Linked DNA regions of Homo sapiens: region 1 is linked to region 2. Evidence: fine-mapped expression QTL. A gene starts in region 2. The other region holds a variant in brackets. All regions are shown on one strand. Distances are between the middles of the regions. Region 1 has its middle 9.9 kb from the start of PEX10. Region 2 holds the start of PLCH2 (phospholipase C eta 2).

Evidence for each region. PIP is the estimated chance that this variant, and not a neighbour inherited with it, causes the effect.
Region 1: its variant is fine-mapped to the expression of PLCH2 in whole blood (TOPMed, PIP above 0.99). The same link has a PIP of 0.9 or more in blood mononuclear cells.

Annotation. Positions count from the first base shown.
Region 1 is chr1:2,416,998-2,427,991 of GRCh38, forward strand. It overlaps a transcript of PLCH2 not described here. Among named protein-coding and RNA genes, the nearest start is that of PEX10, 9.9 kb to the left of the region's middle. The variant T/C (reference allele first, on the strand shown) is at 5,394.
Region 2 is chr1:2,468,691-2,479,732 of GRCh38, forward strand. PLCH2 (phospholipase C eta 2) reads left to right here and starts at 7,599. Exons shown (of 22, transcript NM_014638.4): 1 at 7,599-8,022; 2 at 9,786-9,932. The coding sequence starts at 7,899.

The DNA of each region.
Region 1 (10,994 bases), 52 kb before region 2:
TGGGGAGGGGTCTGTGGAGAGAGGGGCATGGGCCTGTGGCAGAGTTGAGAAACTGATGGCCAGAGAGGCCATGCCTGGTCCAAGGCAGGCACAAGGTGAATCCCAGGTCAGTTTGCCCATACCTGTGTCCCAGTCTCTACCTGTCGCTGGGATTGGGGAGGGGTGCTGGGCACCATGACCTCGCTGATAGGAAATGAGGGGTCCTGGTGTGCAGCTGTCATCTGGGGTGAACCGGCTGATAACTAGGGGCTGGAAACCAAGGGTCCCCCAAAAAGGAGATCTGGGAGGACTTCCTGGAGGAAGAGACTTTGCACTGGTAAGAGTGAGGGAGGGCTCTGTCCATGTGAGAGGCATGGCCTTTTCTGACAAGTGGAGGCTGGGATTGTTGGGTTGGGGGGCACTAAGGGTGGGCCCTGCCCAGCTTCCCAGCCTCCTCTGTGAGGCCGGAGGGAGGGGGCCTGGTGAGTCTGGAATCACACAGGGTGGGGTTCCCAGGAGAGTGAGCCCAGGACCTGTGGGTACTAGGCAAGGCCGGAGAGGACCCACGAGGGAGGCCCAAGCTGGAATGGCGTCCACTCTGGATGTGGGCATCTGGATGGGCTGTGGAGAGTCCGGCCCTGTCCTGCGAGCACTGCATAGCCTGGGCTGTGCTGAGTGTGGCCAGCCGGTGAGGGGCTGTGTGCTGGCTGGAGGGCACCTGGGAGCCACCTCCTGAGGCACTGCCACGCCACCTTCCCCACACAGCCTCCCCTAAGGCAGAGTCAGGGCTGGGAGCCAGGCAGCCCTGGGAGGAGGGGACGGGCAGGGGCTACAGCCTCTGCGCTGAGGTGTGACCTTGAGCAGCTCCTGGTCTTCCCTGGCCTCAGCTTCCTCACCTGTCAAGTGGGGGAATAGAGGCCCCTGCCTCCCGGGTTATGAGAGGACTCAGGATGGCACATGTGTGGGGTGCCCTCCGGGGCCTGCCTCGGACCCCCAGCTCAGGGCTTTGCAGGCATTTAGACTCTGGTGAGAAGAGGCTGAGCCCAGGGCATCCCTGTGTCCTGCCCCCAAACGCGAACACGCAGGCACTCAGGAACCTGCAGGAGCTGTGGAGTCAGCGCAGTGAAGACGTGTGACCGGTGCGAGGCAGACACCCATCACGGCAGGTGCCCCCGAGAATTCCGGGCAGAGCCCACGTTGCTCTGTCTTCAGCCCCATAGCTAGTTGGTTTCTGAATTTTGTTTTTTGGAAACTGCACTGAACTGATTCACACCGATGAGCAGCTGCCGACAGTGACAGCGTCCAGCATTCCTCTGGGCGCCTTCAGTTAGACCGAGAGAGACAGGAGTGGGGGTGTTTTAGTTATCAAAGCTGGCTCCCGGGTCTGGATGCCAGGGTCAGGCATGGGGGCTCCTGCAGCGAGCTCTGGGGGTCTCAGTGGAGGGGGCAGGGCTCTGGTCGTTCTGCTCCACCACGTGCTAGAAGGAGGGGCCCCGGGGCCATGGCTGGCATTGGGCCCCACCCACTGCCTCCCTCGGACGGCTGAATGGTGTGGGTCATCCACTCCTGTTCTCCTCTGACCCGCCTCCTTCAGGAGTTCTGAACCTGGCATTTGATGCCCGATGGACAATAAGGGCTCCCCACGAGGCTGCTCCTCAGGGCTCAGGATCTTCAGTCAGGCAAAGGCTCCCCAAGTTCCAGGGGTGCCGTCCTGGACTCCTGAGCCTGCCCGCCTGCCTCCGCAGGTCCTGTCTGTGCGAGTGGGAGTGAGCCGTGTGCTCCGCAGACACCTGACCTGTGCGCTTATGACGGCCTCTCCTTTGCACATGGCCTCGACTTGGCTGTCCCCCTCTCCCTGGCTGCTGATCTCCCAGTGCCCAGTTATGCCCAGGTCTCTGCCCACCTCAGCCCACACTGGGTGGGGAAATGCTGGCGCAAAACCTGGCTTATTGGGGTTGCAGCCAAGTAGCCCTTGATTCTTCCTACCACTCCCCTACCCGAGAGAGGACCTGCTCACCTCCCCATCCTCGGGGTCTGTGCCCGACGCCTCTCTCTGCGGTTGGCACGGCTCATCCTCTGGCTGGGGCATGTGACACCTGGCCAAGGATGTGGCGTCTGAGGCTCCCCCATCTGTCTGCCCAGCTCCTTGCCCTTCCCTGCGTGGGGCCCGTCCCAGGAGAGCCTGCCCTGACCCTTCCCACCTGCGGTCATCTGTCCCCTCCCAGGCTGCCGGCCTGGTCTGCACGGTCGAGCTTCAATCCACAGTGGAGGCCTTGGGCTGTGCTGCTGTCTGTCTATCCATCCGTAAATCCATCTATCCCCTGCCAGCCCCTTCCCTCAGCACCCCTGGCTCAGCCGTGCCATTCCTGGTTGGCCCTGGAGGTCCTATTTGCTGGTCCTTGAGTTTCCCACTGATTGTGAAGAGACAATAATTGTCCAGAGGGGATCGAAGGGGCGCCTGTGCGGAGCTGGTCCACACTCTGAGGCCCGGGCCTCGGCCGTTGGTCGGGGGGGTTTTCCACTTGTTGTTGACAGAGGCGCCTCCCATGGCAGTGGGGTGCAGGGTCTCCCCTGGGGATGTGAGGCCGGTGAGGGCGGAAGGGGAGCAGGCAGGGGCCCGGGGCTCTCCAGATCTACCACCCCACCACCTCACTGGCTCTTCTTGCCCGGAGCTCAATGCAGGGATCCCCGTGCCTGACCCTGGCATCCACAGACCCGGGGGCCAGCTTTGAGGAGGCGCTGCTGGCTCTGGTGGAGGTGGTGACATGGGGCTCTGGAGACTTGGGGGCCGCTCATCCTTCTTCCTGTGGGCTCCACCATATTCATCCTTGGGGGATTAATCTGAAGCTGTCCGTAGAAGCTGGACTGGGACCCTCAAGCCAGCCCTGGGCTGGGGCCAGCCAGGCCCTTTCTGCCTCGGAACTGCTGCACCTGCTGCCCGTAGTCGGCTCTTGCCAACTCAAAGTTCAAGCATAGCAGGCCAAGTCCCCCCCCCACCCCCAGGCAACCCCTTTGTGCGCTCCCCCCACTACCCCCTCCTGTGCTGCCTCCCCAGTAGCCTGGGTACAGCTATGGGGGTGGGGGCAGGCACAGCAACAGTAACCTGCCTCCCCACTCCCCGCCATCTCTGGTCATTGGTCAGGAGCTCATCAGTGCTGAGTTAAGGACTCAGACAGGCCCCCCGCCCCAGCCCCTACCTCACATCCCTCTCAGCTGACCCCAACTCCTCCCCAAGACTTGGATCCCAAAGGAGCCAGTGTCTGGGGGGCATCCAGGCAGCACCTACCTCTTGTCCTTCCTCCCGCTGCTCGATTCCACTTTCAGCCCCCTGCCCTGTGATTTCAGGACAAAGCTTCCCAGGTGCAGGTCTGAAAGCTTCCACCTCCTTCGAGAGGTGGGTGTGGGGGCCTGTGGGGCCCAGTGATGCTGGCAAGGGGAGAAGGTCCAGGCAGGGGCGGGGTTGCGGATCCACAGTGGGATGCGGGGCTGAACGGTTATGTCCCGGTAGGTAGGGGCTGCAGAAAGAGCCCCGAGGGCTGGGGAGTCCCGGAGCTGGACCACAGGAAGGGCCTCAAGTCCGCCTGCCAGGTCCAGCTTCTCAGGACCCCAGGGCTGGGGCACACTCTTTGCACCCCGCTTTACAGATGAGGAAACTGAGTCAGAGAGGGAGAGTTTAAGGGCAGGCTTCAAGCTGACCTCTGACCCAGAGACCCCCATTTTGAAAAATCTCCTCTTCAGGCCTCAGGCCTGGAGGGCTGTGGGAGTCGCTCCTCTCTCGATTGGAGGGTGGAGTGAGTGATCGATCGATTCATTGCCTTTACCCACATCAGTATCTCTTCCCCCTTGGGACTCCTTCTGAGGAGCGTTGAGTGTGTATCTCGTTTTTTGTATTTTCCAGAATGCTGTGTTGTTCTGGTGCGAGTATTTTAATCACTATTAGTGGGGTGCAAATGTTTTGGCCTTAGTATCCCTTCACACTTTTTTTTTTTTTTTTGAGACAGAGTCTCACCCAGGCTGGAGTGCAGTGGTGCGATCTCGGCTCACTGCAACCTCTGCTTCCCGGGTTCAATCGATTTTCCTGCCTCAGCCTCCTGAGTAGCTGAGATTACAGGCATGCGCCACCACGCCTGGCTAATTTTTGTATTTTTAGTAGAGACGGAATTTCACCACGTTGGCCAGGCTGGTCTCGAACTCCTGACATCAGATGATCCACCCTCCTTGGCCTCCCAAAGTGCTGGGGTTACAGACGTGAGCCACTGCATCTGGCCCCAACACTCTTAGCAGCTGTTGAGAAGCCCAAGGAGCTTTGGTTTTGGGGTGCTGTCTGTAGTGTGTGCTGGAGCAGGCTTGCACGTGCTCACCAGAACCTACGGTAGCATCTCCAGTAATCTCATCAGCTGGTTGTTGGACACAACCATTATTCAAATCAAATTAAAGTAATTAAATTATGTAAAACACAGAAATACTATAAAAAGCAAAGGAAATAAATACTCAAAATGTATTGCTTCCTAATTATTTCTAGCTTACTGTGATCCACGCTGTTATCTGGGTGCAGTCTGTGTGTGTCTGTCTAGTGGAAATGCCGTATGATACTGTCCATCTCTTCCCCACTCTGTGCTCTGTGGGCTCAAGTGGGAATATTTACACCACATGTTTACACCACCTTCATAAAAAAATATGAAAATATTCATGAAGTCTTATTGAAAATAACAACGGGCCAGGCACAGTGGTTCACACCTGTAATCCCAGCACATTGGGAGGTCAAGGCAGGAGGATCACCTGAGGCCAGGAGTTTGAGACCAGCCTGGCCAACATGGTGAAACCCCGTCTCTACTAAAAATACAAAAATTAGCTGGGCGTGGTGGCGCATGCCTGTAATCTCAGCTACACAGGAGGCTGAGGCGGGAGAATTGCTTGAACCTGGGAAGCAGAGGCTGCAGTGAGCCAAGATCACGCCACTACACTCCAGCCCAGGCGACGGAGCAAGACTTTATCTCAAAAAAAGAAGAAAAGGCCAGGCGCAGTGGCTCACGCCTGTAATCCCAGCACTTTGGGAGGCTGAAGGAGGAGGATCACCTGAGGCCAGGAGTTTGAGACCATCCTGGCCAACATGGAAACCATGTCTCTACTAAAAATACAAAAATTAGCCGGGCATGGTGGCAGGTGCCTGTAATCTTAGCTACTCGGGAGGCTGAGGCAGGAGAATCGCTTGAACCCAGGAGGTGGAAGTTGCAGTGAGCCGAGATCGCGCCAGTGCACTCCAGCCTGGAGGACAGTGCAAGACTCCACCTCAAAAAACAAACAAACAAACAAAAACCCATAAACTAATGACATGTTAATAGAAATAACACGTTAACATTTTATGAAAAATACTTTCAAAACAAAAAAATCCAGTGAGAAGAGGGACGTGGCTT[T/C]GCAGTTTTGCAGTCTCTTGAATGTTTGTCTGCATCTGCGTTGCATCTGTCGCAGTGTGTTTTGGTTGAAATCAGTGAAGAGATCTGGCCTCACAGGGCTGAGCCGCCTTTTCAGGTAATCATGGACACTCTTCTCTGATGGTACACCCGGACTGGATGAATGGTAGAGTTTCTTACAGGTTGTTGCGATAACAGAATCTGAAACCGTGCCAATGGACTTTTTGTATTGTTACATTATCATCTGTTGTGTTACATTATCATCTGTTGGTCTGTTTTTACTTTGTTTTTTGTTTTTGTTATGTTTTGAGAAAGGGTCTTGCTCTGTTGCCCAGGCTGGAGTGCAGTGGTACCATCATAGCTCACTGTGGCCTCAAACTCCTGGCCTCAAGTGATCCTCCCACCTTAGCCTCCTAATGTGTTGGGATTACAGGCATGAGCCGCTGTACCTGGCCCTGTTTTTCACTTTGAGTGGAAATTTACCTGTGCATAATTTTGGAAGACCATGTTTTGGTATTAATAATTTGAAAAATATTGGTTTACTGAGTTATGCAGATTTTTCAAATCTTGACACGTTTTATTAAATATTATCCCAAAATCACATTACTATCACCCCGATCTCACGATAAAAGCCTTTAAATATTTGGAAGCTGATAGACTCACAGTGATGAATACAAGTTTTCCAAAATGCTGATTTTTACCTAAGCCTGAATTTTATTATTGGCAACAGATCCTGCAATTTGCTGTTTTGTGTTGTTTTGGAGAGGGTTTTATTTAGTTTTTTTGTTTGTTTGTTTGTTTGTTGTTTGTTTGTTTTAGAGACAAGGTCTTGCTCTGTCCCCCACGCTGGAATGCAGTGGCACCATCACAGTTCACCGTAACCTCGAACTCCTGGGCTGAAGCAATCCTCCTGCCTCAGCTTCCTGAGTAGCTGGGACCACAGGCACATCCCCCCACACCCAGCTATTTTTTTTAAAGAGATGGGATCTTGCTCTGTTGTCCCTGCTGTTCTTGTTACAAGGCCACCAGGTTGGTGTGCCCTCTGCACAGTAACCAACCGATACACGGAGACAGCAGGGTTTGCAGCAGAGAAAGCTTAATGATTGCAGGTGCCAAGCAAGGAGATGGGAGGAGACCCTCAAATCCACCTCCCCTGGAGTTCTGGGCTGGGGTTCTTAAGGAGATTATGGAGGGTGAGGGGCTGGAGAAGCTGGGGTCACTGACTTGTTGGGGTAAGGGGGATGAAATCAGGAGGTGGAAAATGCATTTGCTGGTGAGTCAGCTCCTGTGAGGTCCTTCCCACCAGCTGGCATCAGTAATTTTACTGTTATGCAGGACCTGAAAGAGCATCTCAGATGGAAATCAACCTTTTACAATGTTTAAGTTGTTCTCTCTATGGTAGTTAGGGGAACTATGATCTTGGGACGGGGTCTGTGTGATTCTGGGGCAGTAGGCAGCAACAGTTATGAGGAGAGGTCAGAGAGCCAGCCCACCTCGTCGTGACGCTGCCTGCACCACCAGCTTAGTTCATTTTCCCTTCTCCCCCTCCCTTCTTCTCTGAATAATTTTATAAAGTTTACAGGGGTGATTTCAGCCTCAAACCCTGTCTTCAAGTGGTGCTCCCACCCTGGCCTCCCAGCATGAGCCTCTGTGCCCGGCCTGTTTATTTTTAAATTTCATTTTTAAAAGTATATATTTGACAGATTATAGTTGTATATATTTATGAGGTAGATAGTGATGTTATGATTTTTAAATACAATCATTTCAGTTTAAATCAAGCTAATTAACATAACCATCACCTCAGATATTTACCATCTTTTGTGGTGAGAACATTTGACATGTACTCTTAGCAGTTTTGAAATGCACGAAACTCTATTATTAATTATATTCACCATGCTGCACAACAGAACTAAAAAATTCCCCCAAACCACAAAACATACCCTTCCTGTCTAACTGAGGCCTGGCACCCTTTGGCCATCATCTCCCCATTCCCCAAACCCTGGCCTCTAGGGACCAGCTTTCTACCCTGCTTCTATGAGCTCAGGTGTTTTAGATTCTACATATAAGTGAGAAGATGTGGTATTTGTCTCCTGTGGTTTGGCTTATATCACTTAACTTGATGTTCTCCAGTTCCATCCATGTTGTTGAAAATGACAGAATTTCTTCCTTTTTAAAGGCTGAGGCCAGGTGCGGTGGCTCACAGCTATAATCCCAGCACTTTGGGAGGCTGGGGCAGGCAGATCACTTGAGATCAGGAGTTTGAGACCAGCCTGGCCAACATGGCAAAACCCCATCTCTACTAAAAATACACAAAATTAGGCCGGGCGCGGTGGCTCATGCCTGTAATCCCAGCACTTTGGGAGGCCAAGGCGGGCGGATCACGAGGTCAGGAGATCGAGACCATCCTGGCTAACACAGTGAAACCCTGTCTCTACTAAAAATAAAAAAATTAGCTGGGCATGGTGGCGGGCGCCTGTAGTCCCAGTTACTCGGGAGGCTGAGGCAGGAGAATGGTGTGGACCCGGGAGGCGAAGGTTGCAGTGAGCTGAGATTGCTCCACTGCACTCCATCCTGGGCAACAGAGCAAGACTCCGTCTCAAAAAAACAAAAAACAAAAAACACAAAATTAGACGTGCGTGGTGGCGGCCACCTGTAATCCCAGCTACTCAGGAGGCTGAGGCAGGAGAATCACTTGAACCCAGGAGGCGGAGGCTGCAGTGAGCGGAGATCGCGCCACCGCACTCCAGCCTAGGCGATAGAGTGTGACACTCCGTCTCAAAAAAAAAAAAAAAAAAAGCTGAATAGTATTTCGTTGCTTGGGCGCATGCACACACACACATATTTACACACACATATGTAACACACACATACATACACACATATACACACACATATATACACATGCACAGATACACATATACATACACACATATACACACACATACACCCCCCCACACACATTTTCTGTATCCACTCATCCACTGATGGACACTCAGGCTGATTCTGTAACTCGGCTGTTGTGAACAGTGTGGCAGTGGACATGGAAATGCAGGTCTCTTCAACACGTGGATTTCATTTCCTTTGGGAGTATATGCAGGAGTGGGGTTGCTGGATCTGCTCTGCTGGTTTTTAGGTGGCAGGCTTTAGACAGGGTCTGCCTCTGTTGCCAAGGTTGGAGTGCAGTGGCATGATCTTGGCTGACTGCAATTTCTGCCTTCTGTGCTCAAGTGATTCTCCTGCCTCAGACCCCCAAGTAGCCGGGATTACAGGCACGTACCACCGCGCCTGGCTAATTTTGGTGTGTTTTTTTTTTTTTTGTAGAGATGGAGTTTCACCATGTTGCCCAGGCTGGTCTGAAACTCCTCAGTTGAGCAATCCACCTGCCTTGGCCTCCCAAAGTTCTGGGATGACAGGAGTGAGGCACTGCGCTGGGCTCATGCATTTTTGAGGAAATACCTATGCAGCACACGGCCGGCAGCACCACAGTGTCTCAGCTGTCTTTCCAGGAAAGTCCTGCTCCCCACTATACTGTGGGTCCCCCGGCTAATTCAGCTGGAGTCCCCGTCGCTCGAGAGCCTCCTCCCAGGAAAACGCCCTTTGCTGCGGCAGCTTTCTGTTCTCCCTGGCTCCCTGCACGGAACTGAGCTTTGGTACAGTTCATCATTTGTGCTGTTTCAACAAAGACCTTCTTAGGGAAATGGCCTCTTCTCTGCTTTAATTCTGAGCACGCACTGGTGAAGGACACTGTATCTGAGCCGAGGCCCAGGGTGTCACCCATCAGAGCCTTTCACCATCTGTGCAGATGTCAGCGCGGGGAAGGGACACCTCCTTTACATAAAAACAGCTTAGACCTTGCAGGCTCCTGGAAGATTCTGAGGACCCCAGGGTTATGTGGGCCACACTCTGGGGAGCAGTGTCTATGGCCCCGTGTTTGGCCAAGCACCCCGTTCTGATCTTTACTTTCTCCACCTGGCACTAAGCTTCCCCTTCTTGCTTCTAACACTGAGTGGGGCTCCGGGGTGTCCCCCACCCCATGGCCTCCCAAAGTCCCTGGTTCGGGGCTGCCGTGAGCAGCCTCCTGAGTCCCCATGGGGTCCTGGGGGCCTTTCCCTCCGGGTCAGAGTGGCGGAGTCCCCGGCCTACACACACGAGCTCGGCCCAGTGCTCCCACGCTGACCTAGGGCTGGCCCCTCGCGGTCTTCCCTTCCCTTGTCAAACACCCCTCCCTCTGTCTCCAGAGTGCCGGCGAGCTGGGCGGGCTCCACTCCCTCCATGAAGCTGGCCCCTGAGCGCAGATGTGCAGGCTGGCATTCCTGCCCGCTGTGAGCATGGAGGGGCCTGGCCTCAGCCTCGCACTTCCTGACACGGTTGTGGGGTCGGGGCTGCTGGGTTCTTTGTCTCCCTGTGCGGCCAGGCCAGCAGGTGGGCGTAGCCAGGCGGGCTCCAGCAACCCCACCAGCTTGGGGGCAGCGGCTGAGCTTGCTGGGGCCTGTGGCTTCTCCGGGGCCTTAGGTCTGTGTTCCCTGCATCCGCTAAGTCCAGGGGTGGGAGCAGGGCCTCACAGAGGGGCCTTGGGCTGGGAGAGTGGGGAGGACTGTGGGCAGCCAGTGGCCCCTGGCAGAGTGGCAGAGGCCCAGCCATAGGCTCACTGGCATGGGGCCTGGTCTGCCTCCTATGCCCAGGACGTCTTGGCCGGGGGTCTCCATACCTGGGACCCACGTTCAGCCTGGAGACGGAAGTCAGGGTAGCAGGGAAGTAGCAGGAGGTGGCCTCTGTGTGACAGCGGGTGCCGGCGGCTAGGGGCCCACCGGGTGGAGCTCCTGGGGGCGTTGAGGAGCTGGGCAGTGGGCTGCAGTGGGGCGCCCTGGGGCCAGGAGGGCAGCTGGGGCAGGCAGGCTGTCCCCTCACCCTCTGGGTCTCTCGTGGGGGCCCGGGGCCGCAGGTCTGGGACGAGTCAGGTGCTGGGGGCAGCCGAACCCGCCCCAGCTCAGCCGCCCCTGCTGGTGGTTTCTCCGGGATAGGGTCCTGCCCTCTCTGGGCCTCAATCTCTCCCTCCTGAGAGTGGACTCTCTTGTGGGCTGGGTGGCCAGTGGGGCCTCAGGCCAGGAGGGAGAGGGAGCCCCTCTGTGACATCTTTCCTGGAGAGGCTGAGGCTCCCACTTCTACCTGCCCTCAGGGGGCTTCCTGAGCCAGGGGATACCAGCCAAGGGTGTGGCACCCCACTTCCTGGGCACTGCCGCAGAAGGTGGGAGGGAGGATGGGAGGATGTCAGAGGAGCAGGCCGGGGCTTGTGGGGGCCTCCGGTACCTCTGCTGGGAGCTCGCGATCCAAGGGACACAGCGTGAGGGGCCACCGCAGGTATTGAAACAGAAGCAGCCGGCGAGCCCTCCAGAAGTGGGAGCCCTCCAGAAGTGGGAGCCCTCCGGGGGTGGGAGCCCTCCAGGGGTGGGAGCCGGCTTGGACTCGCTGGCCCTGAGCAGGTACCTGGGCTCTCCCTGTGGGTGAGAGCAGTGGGCGGGCAGGCTGGGAACTTAGGGCTGTAGGACCTGCTGAGTGGGTGACACTTCATCCTCCGGGGGCTTCGAGGGCAGAGGTCCCTGCCTA
Region 2 (11,042 bases):
AACCTGCTTGTTCTGCCCTGTGATTGGCATGGACACGTGGGGTGGGACATGGCATCGCTGCTGGGCAGACTGGGGACGGGTTGCTGGTTTTTGCCTCTGATAAACCGTGTGACCTCACACAAGGGACTGAGCCTCTCTGAGCCTCCATGGGCAAGAGGGATAGCATGGGGCGCTTTCACAGGGTGGCTGTGGGCATTCAGAGCAAGCCTGTCTGCAGTGGTCATGCCGTGCCTGGCCTGTGCAGCTGCTCCAGGGTGCCTGTCCCCTCCTCTGTCCCACCCCCAGTGGAGGTGCCCTCTCTGAATGGAGAATAGTGTGGCAGATGTAACCAGGGCTGCTGGGCAGACACTGTTTGTAGGATGGGCTGTATATTCAGGTCACTCCAGGTGCACCCACTCGCTGACCGCAGCCCCCATCCCAGGGCTCTCCTGGGCACGTTGTCCCTGGTTCCTGCCTGTCTGGCCTGCAGAGAGCTCCCTGGAGTCACTGCCCTGTGCTGGCCACTGGGCTCAGGATGCCTGCCTGCTGTGGACAGGGGCTGGCTGCTGCCGGGTGGCCCCAAAGCCCCAGGTTCCAGGAGACCCAGCACACTTGGGGTCTGCAGCTGGCCAGGGAAGGGCCTAGTCTTAGGAGGGGGCAGTGGTGGGAGTGGCTCTGAGCCCACCCTCCGTGCCTGCGTCCTCTGGGCAGAGGGAGGGGAGCCAGCAGAACAGTCCTTACAGACTCCACGTGCCGCCGAGGACGGAGCAGATGGGCCAGTGTCCTGGGTCCAGCCCTCCATCTGCACAGCTAATGAGCTGATGACGATGGCGTCCCAGTTCCTGGCACCTTCTCCTGGAGAAGCCATGGGCTGGCCCTGCCCGGGCAGTGCCCTTTGCTGGGGCAGGTGTGTGTGGGGTGCCTGGGGCCCTCTCAGGGACCCAGGCCCAGTGGCTCCACCTTCATTGAGGGTGGGCAGGGGGAGGGGTTGGGGAAGGGGATGAGTAATCCAACGTGCCTGTTTCTTCCCGGGATTTTGCTCCCAGCACTGCATACGTGGGCTCCCACCGGCTGGACGGACTTCCTGTGTGGGAAAGGCGAGTGGGCGCGGGCCTCCCGTGTGGGGGCAGGGTGGAGTTGGTGGACACCATCCCCAGGACAGGACGTTTCCTCTGGCTCCTGAGAAGTCACTCACCGTGGTGGCCGCAGGCATGGCTCCATGCTAGCTGGGTGAAGACCCCGAGAGGGGGCCTTGTGGCTGACGGTCACTGGAGACAACAGTGAGCCACTCTGGTGGGACTGTGGAACCCCCTCCAGCTCTGCCCCAGAGAGCAGCACCTGGGTGAGGGCTACAGGAGGCTCTTTCAGCAGGCAGGTCCCAGGCACCATGATGCAGCCCTGACTTGGGGACGGTGGCCACACTGTCCTGGGAGTAGGTCCCTTCCACCGCTCAGACCTGGCGACCCAGGAACACACCTCTGAGGGACTTGAGTGGTCTTGATTTCACATTGATCAGGCCCCTGGCTGCTCCGACTTTCAGGTCCCTGTTGTGGAGGTTTCGGGCGGCCCAGTTCTCAGGGGCAGCCCTGTGCCCTTCCTGGGTCAGCTGGTGTGTGGGTGGGGGCCGACCCAGGGAGCACCTCACTGGCTCCCAAAAGGCAGGAGTGGGAGACAGGGCAGCCAGCCCAGCCCCAGGGCCAGCTTGAGCAGGGAGGTCCAGACAGGGACGGAACGACTATACAAGATCCCAGAAACTTCAGGCAGGGAAGCTCAGAGGGCCAGCTCCATCTCCAGGACACCCTCTCTGTCTGAGACTCTCTGGCAGAGCATTCGTGGGGCTGCTCCCCGGCCTGGCAGTGGCCCGGGGTGCTCTGGCCGGGAAGAGCAGCCCCGTGCCGGGACGGATGTGGCGGGCTCAGCCTCCTGTTTCCTCGCCTCCTCCGTGGCTCCATGCCTGCTCTGCCTGGCAGCGGCCCAGCTGCCACCCTCCCTCCCGCGCCTGGCTATGGGCTGGGGGCAGGGCTGGCTCTGACCACTTGGCCCGAGGACCCTCCCCTTGGAGCTGCAGCCCCCTCCCCTCACTCGGCAGGAGCTCCCTCTCTCCCAGCTGGCAGGCCAGGCTCCATCTGGTGACTTTTCAGGAAAGGCTCCCCCACCGTGGCTGCCACGAGCCTGGCTCCCTCTGCAGCTCCTCTGGGGTGTCCTGGACGGTGGCTGGGGGCAAGGCCGTGCACCTGCCTTCAGAGAGCCCCAGGCCAGGTGGGTGCGATGCCCCTGCTGGCCATGCCCTGCTCAGTGAGGGCAGAGAGGCAGCCAGGGCCTCAGAGAAACCAGTGACTTGTGGCAGGGACAGGAGCCTCCAGGGACACACAATGGGGGGGGCACTCGCGGTGGGGGGAGGAAGCTGTGAAATGGGCTATTAATAGGGTCCCCTTCCTGATGGGGCTGTCAAGTGCGATTAATACCGCTGCTGTGAGCTGGGCTGCCACCAGCTGGGGATGGCTGGGGACGGCGAGGGGGCAGGAAGGGGAGCCCACTCTGGGAGGGACCCTTACTGAGATGGGGACCTGGCCCTGGCTGTCCCGAAGAGGCCAGAGAAAGGCCAGATGTTGGGGCCCCCTTGGCCATAGCGGGCCAGCTGGAGAGTGTGGAGGCCTGGGCTGGGCAGGCGCCCACCTGCACAAGAAGGGCTGCACTGGGGGAAGGTACGGGTCACCTGGCCTCAGAGGCCATCCTGTCCACTTGCCACTGCCGGCTGCTTGGAGGGTCCAGTGGCCTCAAGTTCCTGCACCTTTCTGTGCAACTGGGACTGCTTTGGACACCTGTGACCATCACAAGTCCTCCTGTCCATCCCTCCACACCGGGTGGCCGGATGACAGAAGAAAGGTGTCTGCTGGCCCTCCCTCTGGGCCCTGTGGGAGCTGGATCCTTCTAGCAGCAGCTGGGCCACCAGGGGAGCATGAGCCTGGCTGCTGTCCTCCCCCTGCTCTGGGGCCGGTGGAAGGTGGAGGGCAGGTCAGGTGGCGCGGCCGATGGAGTATGGCTGGCCATCGAGAACCTGTCCCCACGCTCTAGGACACTGGCCGTTCCAGCTCCCCCAGGGCTCTGTGCACACGGACCAGGAGCCACCCAAGGGGGCAGAACAAAGTCAGGCCCCAGGGCCCCCTCCGGCCTGCTCCCCTGCCGAGCTGGGTACTGCCATGGGGTCAGGCCCTTCCCTCCACAACGCCCCCACCTCCTGCTGAGAGCTGGAGTGGCTGCCACACGGAGGGCGCTGCCAGAGGAGAGGGCAGAGCGTCTGTCCCTGCGGTGCCCTCCAGGTGTGCCTAGGGTGGCCCCAGCCCCACAGGCCCCGGGCACTTGCCCTTGGTTCCCCTGCCCTTGCTGGGACCCCTCAGGCCCAGCCTGACTCTGGGATCCCTGGGCTCCTAGCACGACCACTCTGGGGTCCTGCCTGTGGGGAGGGCTCGAGGCACCGACTCACACTCCTGATAAAATAAAAATAGTTGGGGAGGAGGCTCCCAGACGTGCGGGGGGACAAGTGGCTTCTCTCAGACGTTTAAATAATCTCCGCCATATGTGTGTGGGCCCGGCCCTCCCTCCCGTGCGGCGCCAGTCCAGGGGCCCGGCTGATCTCCAGTGAGCACTGTGGCTGGGGCAAGGTGGCCACTTCCTCCTCCCTCCCGTCCACCCAAGCACAGCCTCAGCCCCTCCTGCATGCTGGGCCGGCCCTTGGGGGCAGCACGGGAGGGGGATGCTGGGGCTGCGAGGGGCAGGGGGGCGCGGAAGAGCCAGGGCCAGGAAGGGCTGCAGGAGCATCTGGCCCTCATGCCTCACTGCTGCTGAGGTCCTTTGCTCTCCTAGCCCTGGGATGCGGCTGCCTCAGGGACTCTTGGTGGCCCTGGAGGGTGGGTAGGCTGGCCTGGGGGCCATTGGGACAGCAGGTGACGGTCAGGCCAATGCCAGCCGGGCCCAGGCACAGCCCTGTGGGGGCTTCAGAGGGAGACACGGGTGGGCCCAGGGAGGTCCTTTGAAATGTCCTGCTGAAAGGCAGCAAGCGTCGGGAGAGGAGGGGGCTTAGAGGCAGCCAGGGCCACCTCTGGACAGGCCTGGAAGAGGTGGGGCCCCTGCCCGTCCCGTACACGCTCGTGAAGGGAAGAGGTTGGTGGAGGGGCATGTGCAGTCCCCATGCCCCTGTCGTGGGAGGGGCTGCGGTACCCAAAGCTGCCCCGGGTGTGTGTGTACATGCCGGGAGGCCTGTGGGTGTGATTTGTGGGTTTTGTTGGAAGATTCATTATTTTCCAGCCTTCCCCAGGGGAGAGGCGGAGATGCTGAGCCACCGCTGGCCCCTTGTTGATGACAGCCGCGAGGCCCATGCTGCCTGCTGTGTTAGGACAAGATCGATCTCCGCCATAAAAACAAAATTAAGCCAACACCGCCCTGGCTTCTGACAGCGCGCGCTCTTCCTCTAATCAGCTGCCACCCGCCCGGTTCCAGCCTTGGGAAGAAAGGAAGGGGCTGCAGGAGCAAACCTCTCACAGTGGGGAAACTGAGGCACTGAGACAGGGAGGACAACCCAAGGTCGGGGGGCAGGCCCAGGACCCCTGCTTCCCAGCAGCCACCAGGGCCAGGCAGTCAGGGTGGGCCGGTGCAGCCCAGGTGCGGGGGCTGAGCCCAGGGGATCACGGGCGCATTCCTCTGCGTGTCACCGTGGGGCCCGCAGAGCCCTCCCATGCACTCTCCCCAACTGGGGTGCAGCCCCGTCTGCCCGTCTGTCCACCCATCCGCCCATCTGGGTGCATCTGTGTGGGAGGCTTCTCCAGGCCCAGGGCTGAAGCCGGCCAGACCCTTGAGAGCTGGACCCTGGACACCAGTGTGGACACTGGCTCCCGTCACCTCCTCAGAGCAGGCCTGGTGGCCTTAGCTGCCTCTGTCCTGCCCGTCCCTCCCTGTCCACCTGTGTCCAGCCAGCGCCTGCTACGTGTTGGATCATGGCCTCACAGGGACAGAGCAGGGAGGAGGACTTCGAGGTCCCTGCCCCAGGGATGTCCCGGGGTCAGGCAGTGCTCTGAGGACTGGGGAGCCCCACTGTGCTGTGCAGGGACCTGGGGGAGCAGCAGGTGAGCCAGGGCCCTCCTCTCCCCGACGGAGCCTATATCTGCCCGACCAGGACTGCCGGCCCTTCCCAGTCTGGCCTCTGGTGTGGGCCCACAGCCAGGTGCATTGCTACAATCCCACCTGAGCTCCCACATCAGGTGTCCTGGCTCAGGCTCACGGGAGGGGCCGAGGCGGCCTGGGGGTGGGTGTGGACCATGGCTGAGGGCTGGGCCCCTGTGTGGAACCACAGAGCAGAGCGTGGCTTCTTCGGCCTCCCTGTGGGCTTTCAGGATGGCCGGGCCCTGGCTCAGGGCAGGCAGGGTGAGCATGAGGGCCCGTCAGTGCAGGCTGTGGGGCTGGGCTCGCCTGCCGGCATGGGGGTGGGGCAGCCCCCTCCGTGACCTTGTGTGGGGGCTGGGCTGGGCCCTGGGCCGGCTCACAGGCAGCACGTGGGGAGGGGTTCTTAAGTCTCTGGGCCTGGGCCCCTGCCACGTCTCTTGGCCCGGGGCACCCCCGGCTTCACGCTGCAGCTGCGGTTCTGTGTCTGCCTGAGTTTTGGAGGGGAGTGGGCGGTCCCTTTGGACCTCAGGGCAGGCAGGGCAGCCCCCGGCAGAGGCCTGTGTCAGGAAGGGATTAGCCAGGCCTCCACCCGCCTGGACAGTTGAGGATTCCAGCTCTGCTGCTGAGGAGGTCAGGGGGCCTGGGGTGCAGGAGCCTGGGACCCACGTTGTGGGGCTGGGGCCAGGCACTCTATGTGTGGCTCCTCTCAGAACCCCTGCCCAGGCAGATGGCGGCCTCCAAGCCCTAACCCCAGCTGATGGGGGATCAGCTAGTGGCTGAGAGCTCAAGGGAGGGAGGGAGGGAGCAGAGGCCCAGCCTTGGGGAGCTTCAAGGAGGGATGGGTGAGAGACGGGAGCACCCCCAGCTGGGGCCAGGCCCAGGGTGAGGGAACAGCAGGTGTGTCCCAGGCCAGGAGGCCTCTGAGGTGCAGGAAGGAGAACTGGACCCCCTGGGTCAGAGTGGAAGCCCGCAGCAGCCCAGTATGAGGTGGGCAGGGGCCCTGGGCCAGGGCTATGGCCGTCTGGTCTGTCTCCAGGCCCTCAGGCCACCTCCTGGCCCCTGCGCTGCCCCTTACACGGTGGCCTTCCCCGAGGCCCTGTCTTCCTGAGGACGCCCGGGACTCCAGCCCCTCTCCTCTCCCTGCAGCTCATGGCTCCCTAATCTAATTCCACGGCAGAGCCCAGAAACGCCTGCTGACCTGCTTCCGCCGAGAGCAGCAGAGCCTGTGACGGGGCCCCTGGTGGGGGCCTGGGTTGGCTCTGTGCTGACTGCATCTGATCTGGCTGGGTGTGGCCCTGGTTGTCAGTGGTCAGCTGGAGACGCATGGCCATCTCCTCAGGGACTGCCACCTCCCACGCCTGACCTTGGCCCCGGGGCTCTGCCAGGATGCCCAGCCCTGGCACCTCCCTGTCCTGGGCTCTGCAGGCCAAACTCCTCCCCTGGTATGGGGGGAGGCGAGCAGCTGCCCGGAACCTTCCAGTCCTTGTTGCTGGAGCCAGTAGAGCCTGGGCAGTGGGTGGGAAGAAGGGCGGGGTTCTCCCCAGTGTGGTCACGAAGCATGGGCATGGCCAGGACACAGGTGGCTGGTGTTCAGCCGGGGTCTGCCCACCTCCCATTCCCACAGCTGCCCCTGGTGTCCCGGCCTGGACTTGGGGATGGGAGAGCCTGTGCTGTCCTGTAGTGCGGGGCCAGTACACAGGGTGGGCTGTGTGGTCCTGGTGGCAGTGGGACCTGGAGTCCTTTCCTCAGTGGGAGCTGAGACGGTGGGGTGGGTCCTCCTTGGGCGAGGCCCCTGTCCAGGTCAGATGGCTGTCATCCCTGCAGGGCAGAATGTGGGGACAAACGTGCCCTGGGCATGGGGCCACCTCCTCCGCCACAGCTCGGTGACCGTGGAGAAAGGTCAGGCTGGGGCTGCAGCTGCATGAGGGAGACATGGAGAGCCCAACCCAGGCTCAGGGACCCACATCCTGGGCCTGGGCTGGGAGTTGTCGCTGTAAGGGATCCGGCTCGGCTCCCCTCTCCAGCCACAGGGGCTGGGCGCTGCGGGGATGAGGTGAGCTTCTGCCCCTGCTCTGGGCCACCTGCCTCTGGACTTTGGGGATCCACTCAGAGGTCCTCATAAGTAGGGATGCGGGGTGAGGGCAGGGACCACTCCAGGCCCAGCCTCGGCATCTGTGGTGGGCGCACAGCGGGGAGGCCCACCCCACACAGGGTCCTCGGAGGACAGTACCCTGCAGGCCTTCCGGTTGCGTTCTCTGGGTCCCAGGAGGGCCCTCCCGTTGGTCCTGCTCTTGTCCCGCAGCCCTGACCTGGGTCTGGTGGCCTGGGGCCTTGGGAAACTCTGTTGCCTCCCCAGTGCCCTCCCATCCCCAGCTGGGAGTTCCCTCGGCCTAAATCCTCCACCAGCTGGGCTGGAGCTGGGATTAGCACAGGGATTGGGCCTGGGGCTGGGCGGGGCTGAGGTCCTTTGCTCCCCCAGCCTTGGGAGGCGGCTGCGTCAGGGATTCCTTGGTGGCCCTGGAGGGTGGATAGGCTGGCCTGGGGGCCATCAGGACAGCAGGTGACGGTCAGGCCAATGCCAGCCGGGCCTGGGCACAGCCCTGTGGGGGCTTCGGAGGGCCCTGAGGAGGAGGAGGAAGAGGCAGAGGAGAGAAGGCCCCACGGAGGTCCTGTCGCCAGCGCTGCCACTGCCTGACCTCCGCTGCCCGAAGGCCGGTGGGCCTCTGTGGCCTCCGTGAAGCAGGCCCGGCTGTCGTCAGGCCATGTCTGGTCCATGGCCCTCCCCCGACAGCCGGACCAAGGGAACGGTGGCCTGGCTGGCGGAGGTACTCCTCTGGGTTGGAGGGAGTGTGGTGCTGTCTTCAGAGTGGCAGCTCGGCCCCCTGGGTAAGAAGGGGCAGGCGAGTGGCCTGGGCTGAGTGCTGGCCCTGGCCAGGTGACTGGTGGGTGGGGGCTGTTCCTGGAGGTGGGGGAAGCCTGGGCCTCCATCCCATCCTGCACTCGCCTCCCCTGTCCCCCGGGTGCTCTAGGGATCATGTGGGTCCAGCAGCGTCGGCTGGCCCTGCCCCTCAGCCGCTCAGAGGCGTGCTCAGCACACCTCGGTCTCCCAGGCACCTGCAGGGCCTGGGGGCTGAACCCAAGGGGGCGAGGGGGGATCTCAGGTGGCTCCAATGCTCTCATTGAAGGGGTGCCTTGTGCTCTGGGGGTCAGTGGTGCTTGCAGCCCAGGCGGCTGGGCTGGCATCCTGGTGCCGGACATGAGGGCCTTTGCCGTTAGGAGACTCTGCAGAGGAGACTGGCTGGGTATGGCTGGGAGGGTGGAGTGTGTGTCTTGTGGTGGCCTGTGGAGGGCCCCGGTCCGGGCTGGCCTGCCAGCTCTCTGTTCCAGCGGCAGACAGGGTCCTGTCCAGGCTGCCCTGTTGCAGGCCTCTGCCCGCCCCCTGCCCCTGTGTCCTGCCTCACCCCTCTCCTAAATCCCTGCAGCCATACCTGCGTCTTCACCTCCCATGTGCCCCGGAGAGCCCAGCCCCCCATGCCATGGCTTCCATCCCTTCAATTCCCCTCTGCTCGTGATCACGTAGTAGCTTCCCCAAGAAGGCCCGGCCAGTACTGCCCTTGGTCCTCTACAACGCCCCCGCCAGGGTCCCTCAGCGTGCAGACCTGGGGTGGGGATTAACGTCTCTGTGCTTTAGCAGATGGTACCTCTGGGACCCGGGCTTTCTGTGAGCAGGTGTGCAGGAACCGAGGGGGTGAGACCAGTCTGTTCCTGGGCTGGGACAGCTGACTCTGGCCTGGACTCCCTGGACCCTGCAGCCCCCTCTCCTGGGACAAGCTACAGCAGGAGGCTGAATGGAGAGAGGAGGGGAGAGAAGGAGCGAGGCAGGCAGCCTGGGGGAGGGGAGGGGAGGGGTTGTGAAGCTCGGATCCGGCACCACAGCCTCCCAAGTCCATACTGCAGTGCAGGGCGTGCGACGCAGACATTCATGGCACCATTCGTGGCGCTTGTTGCACATGAGGGGTGGGGGCTTTCCTGGAGATGCCCCAGGCAGGGGCACAGGCACTCAGGAATTCGACCGCTCCCAGGAGCCACCTGTGGCCAGGGGCGGGGGCAGGGGCATGGGGTTGCTGCCTGCTAGGCCCACCCCGCCCCTGACAAGGGGCCTCCACTGCACTATGGCCCCAGACAGCCAGCCCAGCCACCTCATCTGTCTTGCCTCGTGCCCGGCCTTCCCATTGTTGAGTTCTGTGCTGGCTCCGTCTGAGTGGTAGCTCTCGGGGCCCCAGGCCCAGCGCCGGTTACCAGGGCTGCTAGGACTGGTCCAGGAGGTGGTGGGAGTGGCAGGTGGCCGAGCAGGGTGGGGAGCAGGGCCCTCAGTTCCCAGGACCATCTGGGGAGGAGTGGCAGGGCCCAGCTGAGCTGTGTGACCCAGGCAAGCCGGCACCTGGGGTGGAGGTGGCCCTGGGCTCTGGCCTTTGCCCTGTCACTGGCAGGGCGGTGTGGGCGGGGCCGGGCGAGGTGAGGAGTGGCCGTGCCTCCGCTGACGGCCGTGTTTCTCCCGTGAGGAGTGGCCGTGCCTCCGCTGACGGCCGTGTCTCTCCTGCGAGGAGTGGCTGTGCCTCCGCTGACAGCCGTGTCTCTCCCGTGTCCAGTGGAGCGGTGCATGGGTGCCATGCAAGAGGGGATGCAGATGGTGAAGCTGCGTGGCGGCTCCAAGGGCCTGGTCCGCTTCTACTACCTGGACGAGCACCGCTCCTGCATCCGCTGGAGGCCCTCACGCAAGAACGAGAAGGCCAAGAGTGAGTGGGAGCCCTGGGGTGGGGACAAATCAGAGTCCCTGGGGGGACACGACGGTAGGGACCCTCCCAGGGCAGCCACTGATGGCTGAGGAGCAGCGAGACCCTAGGCCTGGACACCTCTGGGCTCAGTGGCCTTGGGGATCTGCAGTGACCTCGGGCTGTGGGGTAGGAGGGATCCAGGCCCCCTGCCCGCCTGGCAGAGCTCCCTGGGACTCAGTGAGGACCGAGTAGCACTGTGCCCAGCCCTGTGCTGAGTGCTGGGCTGGAAGGAGGGGCACAGCATAGTCCATCTAGCTGGGGAGGTCACAGCTCCCCATAAACAGAAACGACCCCCACAGAGGTATGCTGATGGATGGGTATGGGTGCAAACAGTGGCTCAGGCAGCCACTGGGCATGGCTGCTGGAGGGAGCAGGGGCCACCCGAGATGGAGGCTCTGTGCAGGGGGTGGGTGGGGAGAGTTGAGGCACACAGGGAACGGGTAGGGTCCCACGGTTTGGGGAGAGACATGGCAGTCCTCAAGGGCTGGGATCAGGGCGCAGCCAGGGTTTCTGATGGCTTTGCTGATGGTCAGGACCCAGGCATGCCAGGCAAGGCCTCAGCCCAGCAGTTGCCAAGCGTGTAGCCACTTTGGGCCCGTGGAGAGAGTCGCGCTGCGGAGCCCCCAGGGGGACCTGAGGTCACAAGAGCCTCGATGCACCTGAGCGCGGAGCTGGGGGTCCCTGGAGCCGCTGTCCCCACCTGCGGCGCTGGAGCCCTGGAGGTGTCCAGGGGCTTCCTTGGAACGTGGAGACGTGCTGGTTAAACGTGGAGCCCCGGGCCAGCCGGGCACTGGGGGCTGCAGGTGGAGGGAGGTGGATGCTCTCCCTCGTGGGGGCGTGTCTTTTCCACAGGAAAGGGAAAGGGGGAGGGACACGGGTCAGCAGTGGGGGGCTGTGCAGTCTCGCAGATCTTCACCCTTGGTTCTTGAACTCTGGACCCTGAGCCCTGCCGAGGGTCCCGCAAAGGTGGGCAAGGAGCTCCCGGCTGCTTGGTCTCCGCAGTGTTGGGGCTGCCAGCAGGGGGACGCTGGGCCCCCGGGGACCTGACCCGTGCTCCCTCCCCACCCCGCA